2 separate regions of the Homo sapiens genome follow, and region 1 is linked to region 2. The links come from fine-mapping of genetic effects on gene expression. A gene starts in region 2. The other region holds a variant in brackets. All regions are shown on one strand. Distances are between the middles of the regions.

Evidence for each region. PIP is the estimated chance that this variant, and not a neighbour inherited with it, causes the effect.
Region 1: its variant is the best candidate, but not a certain one, in a credible set for the expression of THAP11 in blood mononuclear cells (TOPMed, PIP 0.60).

Annotation. Positions count from the first base shown.
Region 1 is chr16:67,878,471-67,881,366 of GRCh38, reverse strand. EDC4 (enhancer of mRNA decapping 4) reads right to left here. Exons shown (of 29, transcript NM_014329.5): 10 at 2,736-2,831; 11 at 2,528-2,630; 12 at 2,230-2,410; 13 at 2,058-2,130; 14 at 1,864-1,955; 15 at 1,593-1,780; 16 at 1,396-1,517; 17 at 1,151-1,304; 18 at 377-810; 19 at 187-291; 20 at 1-102. Among named protein-coding and RNA genes, the nearest start is that of NRN1L, 5.0 kb to the left of the region's middle. The variant C/T (reference allele first, on the strand shown) is at 1,034.
Region 2 is chr16:67,841,254-67,844,149 of GRCh38, reverse strand. THAP11 (THAP domain containing 11) reads right to left here and starts at 1,830. Exons shown (of 1, transcript NM_020457.3): 1 at 1-1,830. The coding sequence starts at 1,595. The coding sequence ends at 651. The region is part of intron 1 of CENPT (centromere protein T); the gene reads left to right. RefSeq lists enhancers at 507-556, 997-1,156, 868-1,614, 2,067-2,116 and a silencer at 1,637-1,816.

The DNA.
Region 1 (2,896 bases), 37 kb before region 2:
CCCTTGGTCTTCCAGTCCTTGGCAGGCAGCCGTGGAGCAGGAACTTTGGTGCCAAAGCCTCCTGAAGCAGAGGCAAGGCTGGCCACCTCATCATCATGGTCACTGTGGGAAGGGGAAGGAGGAGTAAGCCCCTGCCCACTTGCTGCCCATCCCCCCATGAGGGCAATGGTGTAGAGTGGCTCCCACCTTTGCTCAGCACTGGCATCCTGGCTGTCACGTTGCTGCAGCAGGTGATATGGTGGTCGGTGGAAGGCCAGGCTCTTGTGCTTTTCCTGAAGGCCATTCCTGGGGCTGGGAGGACAGGCCAACTTAGCCATGGATGAATCTATCTGAAGCCCCTCCTGCTAGCACACTTTTCCCCTCCCAAGCTCCTCACCTTTCTGCCAGGGTGCTGCAGGTCTCACGAGTAATGTCAGGTGCTGTGGGCCAAACCTGACTGTCAGGAGTCGAGGCCTCCTGGGTCAAGGCTGCCTCCAGGAGGGAGGGGGTATTATGCCGATCTCCATCCCCAGGGCCTCCATCAAGCCCGAGCTGGGGGCCGAGCTCGGGCCCTGGCCGGGGCCGTGGGGACAGCAGGTGCAGTGCCGAGGCGGCTGAAGCCATACTGTCTGGCTCAAGGCCCTCTGGTGCAGAGGAGCCAAAACCACGGGACAGGGCCTCAGATGCAATCTCAGGGATGTCCTGGGACAGGGCAGTGGAAGCTGAGGAGATGACATCAGGGGAACGAGTGCGGCTAGGGGAGGCTTGGGGTAGCCCCAGGGGCTCCACTTCCTGCAGCTCCAGGGACAGTGCAGAGGTGGCAGTAGGCACCTGAGGTGGGCCAAAGATGGGGGCTTAAGTGACAGGAAGTGAGGCAGAGATGGGGGGCACAGAGACGAGGCATTAGTATTAGCAGTAATGAGAGACAGGGCAGCAGGGAAGTGGGGATACAGGTCAAAAACGAGGCCACAGCCAAGAAGAGGAGGTGGGGACAGGGAGGCTGAGGAGACACCCACCAGGAAACACAGGAGGGTGAAATGACCTCAGGGAAACA[C/T]GGACCATGTCGGGTAGAGCAGGATCAGCAGCAGGGGGCTGGGAGGAGCCCACCACCCACCTTCCCTGCTGCTGCCCACCTGCTCCCCACACTTCACACACACACCCAGTCACACACCTGGCCCGGCCCCTTGGGAGTCAGTTTGTCAGCTGGGGCTGGGAGCAGGCCAGGCAGGAGGCCACGCGGGCTTGCCTGAAGGCTGCCACTGCTGCTCATTGTCAGGCTGCCATCCAGCTGCAGCTTGGGGCTCAAGGTCAGCTCCTCAGGTGGCCTGGTGGGGGAAGGCTGAGGTGTCAGCAGCCAGAGCTTGGCATCATCTGGTACCAGCCCCTGCCATCCTCCATCTCTGACCCTTGCCTCACCTGGTCAAGGAGGGGTCCACAGCTGAGGTGCTGCTCATGGCAGACACAGCTGTAAGGGAGCTGCTGCTACTGCTGCTGCTGCTGCTGCTACCGCTGCTGCTGCTGCTGGGAGAGGCAGTGATCTGGGGAGATGCAGGAAATAAGACCTGTGGCCTGTGGCTGAGGCATTCCCAGGTCCCCCTACCCTGGGAGAGTACCTGCTGCAAGGAGGCGCTAGGTGTCATGAAGGCGTCAGGTGTCATCAACTTGGGCTTGGTCTCACTGCTCAGACTGAGGAAGTCGGCAGGTGCAGGCAGCTCCACGATTCGTCGGAGGTCAGGCTGGGAGCCGTGAGCGGCTGACCCCAGGCCCTCAGAGCCCAGTTCGGGCCGAGACTCTCCAAATGCTGCAGGGCAAGTTGCCACTTGAGTTAGATCTCAGACCCTGGTCAGTCCAACTTACCCTACCTCCCTCTCACGCCCTACTCACTGAAGTCCTCGTGGGCAGTGTGGGTGGGCAGTGGGGCCACCACATCAGGGTTCAGCTGTGGCTGGAAGCGGATCTGCACATCTTGCAGTGCCCTGCAGGAAAAGAAGGGGGAGAATAAAGTGCTCCAAGGGCAAGGGTCAGTAGAGTGGAGACAGACACAGACAGGACACTGGCGGGCCTCCCCACTCACTCACTTAGTATGCACACAAAAGAGCTTGATGAGCACACCGGCCGCAGACTCCATGGCACCGGCTCCATGGGTACCATCTGAAAGGACAGTGTGGATGATGAAGCCCCTGGCCCTCTCTGTGCCTCCACAACCCCCTAGATATATGGACACATAGCTCTGACCCTGAGGCAGCTCACCAGCACCCAGGCTGTCATTTTCCTCTTCGGCAGGCAGCACCTCAGTGTGCCGTAGCCGGCAGCGACTCACAACCTGGATACCAAAGCTCAGCACAGGGTGGGTGAGCAGGAACTCCGAGATGGAGCTGAAGCAGGCGTGGCCCTCCTCCTGGTTTTGCAGCAGCTCCATCACATAGAGGACCTGCACAGGCAGAACGTTCCTAGCTGAGCTCAGAGGCTAAGGGCTGTGATGCGCCACCTGCCCCCCGGCCTTCCTCTATAATCCCAACTCTGCCCAGGGTACCCCATGGCAGCCTACCTTCCGTTGCACATCGCTGAGAATCAGGTATTCTGCTGAGAGGTCCAAGCAAACCTTGAGGCTAGGGGGCACACTCACTGAGCTGAAGATATCTGGGGAGAAGCTAGAGAGCCACAAAGCAGAGTGAATGAGCCTGAGAACTGAAGGAAGCTACATTCCCAACCCTGCCGCCCCTGCCCAGTCCCCCAGCCTTCCAGCCACTGCTTACCGAATAGTCTGCAGGCAGGTCCAGGATACTGTACACCACATCTTTAACTCTCGGTTCTGGTCAGCACCAGTAATAAGGAACCTCCAGAAAGGGACACTGCAAGGCAACAAGGCAGTGAGTGACTGGCTGGGGCCCCTGCTGGGAGCCATGGTCCAGCCCAC
Region 2 (2,896 bases):
TGAAAACTTTAGTCTGACTAATTGTACAGAAAATAGAATTTGTAACCAGTAGCAAACAAAACAGGATAAACCTAAGTCCCTGGCAAGCTGGATCTCCATCAGCAGGTCATCCAGATCCCCTTGTAAATGGCCTCCTGGGAAAATAAGTCCTAGGAGGCAGAGGCACAGATTTACCAGTCCCCATCAGAATCACAGGCTGCACCTGGGAAGGAAAAGCATGAAAAGGAGGAGAACTGATGTTACTTGAATCTCTTATCACTACACACATTAGAGTTGTCTGACTGCTGACCAACCTTAAGGTATGGTTTTCCCAAACCTATAGTCCCTGGACATCCCACCTGCATCCCTAGAGGGTAAGTTTCAAGTTCAGTGGTTCTGAAGCCTCTGCTTAACCAGAATCTGCAACAATAACTGGGGAGGAAGGGTAGACAAAGTCATAATTGCTGGTGTCACCAGGGCAGAGTCTAAGGCCCCAGCTTCCACTTCAGGAGGAAACAATTGAGGATGCCAGGTCACCAGCAAGAGAGTCCAGCTGCCTTAAGCCTCAGTACTGTCAACCAGTGCCCAGGAGTATAGAGGAGTTCAACAATGGCCTGCGGTCCCCTGGCTGGATGGGGTCTGGGAGTCCAGCAGGCTGCCGGGGCACCAGTTCACATTCCGTGCTTCTTGCGGATGACAGCCATGGCAAGCAGCCGATCCTTCTCACGCAGTTCTTCGCGCAGCTTGGCCTCAGTGAGACGCAGGTGGCGAATGCTGCCTTTCATCTCTTTCATCTTCACTTCCATCAGAGCCAGGATGTCCCGCTGCTCATTCAGCTTGCGCAGGAGCTCCTCCTCCGTGGTGCCTGACGACAAGGAGTACGAATGGTCGGAGCCAGTATCAGGGAAGCCCTCTTCCCCTACCACCACCAACTGGGGGCCCATAGGGCACTCGGCAGCCTCCAGCCCTGCGGTAGCAGCCTGTAACTCCGACGCGGCGGCCGCAGCGGCTGCGCCCTCTGCGGCTGCAAACTCCACTTGCACTGTGAGATCGATGGGCTTCACGTCTTCTCCAGTGGGAGTGATGGGCGCCGGCTGTACGGATCCCGGAGCCTGACTGCTGTCTACAGTGGCCTGAAGGGTGAGAAGCACGGCCGCGGAAGCAGATACCAGGTTCGGCTGCAGCTGGGCAGTCTGGGCAGTGGAGGCAGAGGGTGAGGACTGCTGCTGCTGCTGCTGCTGCTGCTGCTGTTGCTGCTGCTGCTGCTGTTGCTGCTGTTGCTGCTGCTGCTGCTGTTGCTGCTGCTGCCTGCGGCGGGCGGCCGCGGCCCCAGCGGGTCTGCGCGCTACTTTGCGCTCATTGACGCCGCGCAGCGGGAAGATGGTGGGGACGCGTACCGTGTAGGTCTTGCGGCCGCCCTGGAAGTGAACGCTGCAGAGACGGTGGCCTGTGGTGGGCTGGAAGGTGGAGAAGCACCCACTGACGCCGGCACGCGACACGTTCTTGAGCCAGAGGCGCCGCAACTCAGCGTCCTTTGGAAACGTGTAGAAGTGCAGCGCCTTGTCCCGGTGCGAGTTGTTGTAGCAGCCTGGCACGCAGCACGTAAAGCCAGGCATGGCTGCGCCGCGCGGCCCGGCCCGGCCCACCGGCCTCCTGCGCTCTTCGACGGCCCAGTGGCTACGCCGCCGCCCGCCCCTCGACGGGCGGCGCCGCGCGAGGCCTTGGGTGGTATCCCACCACTGCCGCTCGGCGCAGCCGGCCCGCCCGGCGCCCCGTGCCCAGAATACGCTTCCTGCCGGCCCGCGCCGCGCCGCCCGCCTGGCTGCCCGCCTGCGCTCGGGAGTGGGCCCCGGGGACGCCGCGAAGGACCGCCTGAGAAAGAGACTACGCCCCCCACAATGCCCCGCGCCAGAAGCGGCTCACTTCCGGGGCGGGTGTGTGCGGATTCCTGCCGCCTTCCAAGGCACTGCGATAGCCTCCGAAGAGCAGATTCTTTCCCCAGCCCGTCTTGTCCCCGGCGGGCGAGAGAGGCGTATTAGGTTGGAACGCTGTCGCCTGGACTGCTCCTCACGAGGACCCGAATCCTGATAGGGGCGTGGAGCGGGGCGGTGCGCGCCTCACCGGTGCGCAAGCGCGGTGGGTATATGCCCACGGAGACTACAAATCCCGTGATGCCTCGCGCTGAACTAGGCGCCTTCCCTCCGAAGCGCCGCCTAAGGGAAAGATCGAGTTACTGCGGACCAGGATTCGGGCGAGGTTGTGCTGTTTGCCAGAACCAGTTCCCCAGCCCCGAGCCCCTTTGAGTCGACGGCATTGCTGCAGCAGAGGGAGACGAAACCTGGGCCTCGGCGCCCCGAAGGGTCTCAGGAGCCCCTTTCTTTGCGTTGGGGACTCTCTCCTGATTCAGCTGCTGCCTGCGTTGACTAACTGATCTAAACAAAGTCTCCAGTAGACGCCTACTATGTGGCTGACACGGTGCCGGGAGTTTGCGGGAGTCAGACCGACTGGGCTCCTCTCTTGGAGCCTGACTACCTAGACGGATAAGCGTCTGTCTTTTGGATAATAGATCTGAATGCACGCGAATGGATGTCTACTCACAAATAGTAATCGCTCCAAAGGAATTAACAGGAGAGCAGAGAAATGGGGGGGAGGTGGTGGGGGCCAGGAATAAAAAAACGAACGAAAGCTTGGGTAGGGAGAAGTAGCCAATTCTTGTCCCAGGAACCAGTCTGTAAGGCCACATGGCAGAAAAGAGCTAGGCTCCGCCATTAAAGAGCCTGGAAAGGGGTGGCCCGGGTAGGGCCAAGCGTAGGAAAATACCAAACTGGGACATGTTAAGGATTTGGGGTTTTATTCTGCAGGCCACTGAGAGCTATTAAAGGATTTTATGGGAAAGGATTTGCATTGTAACAATACA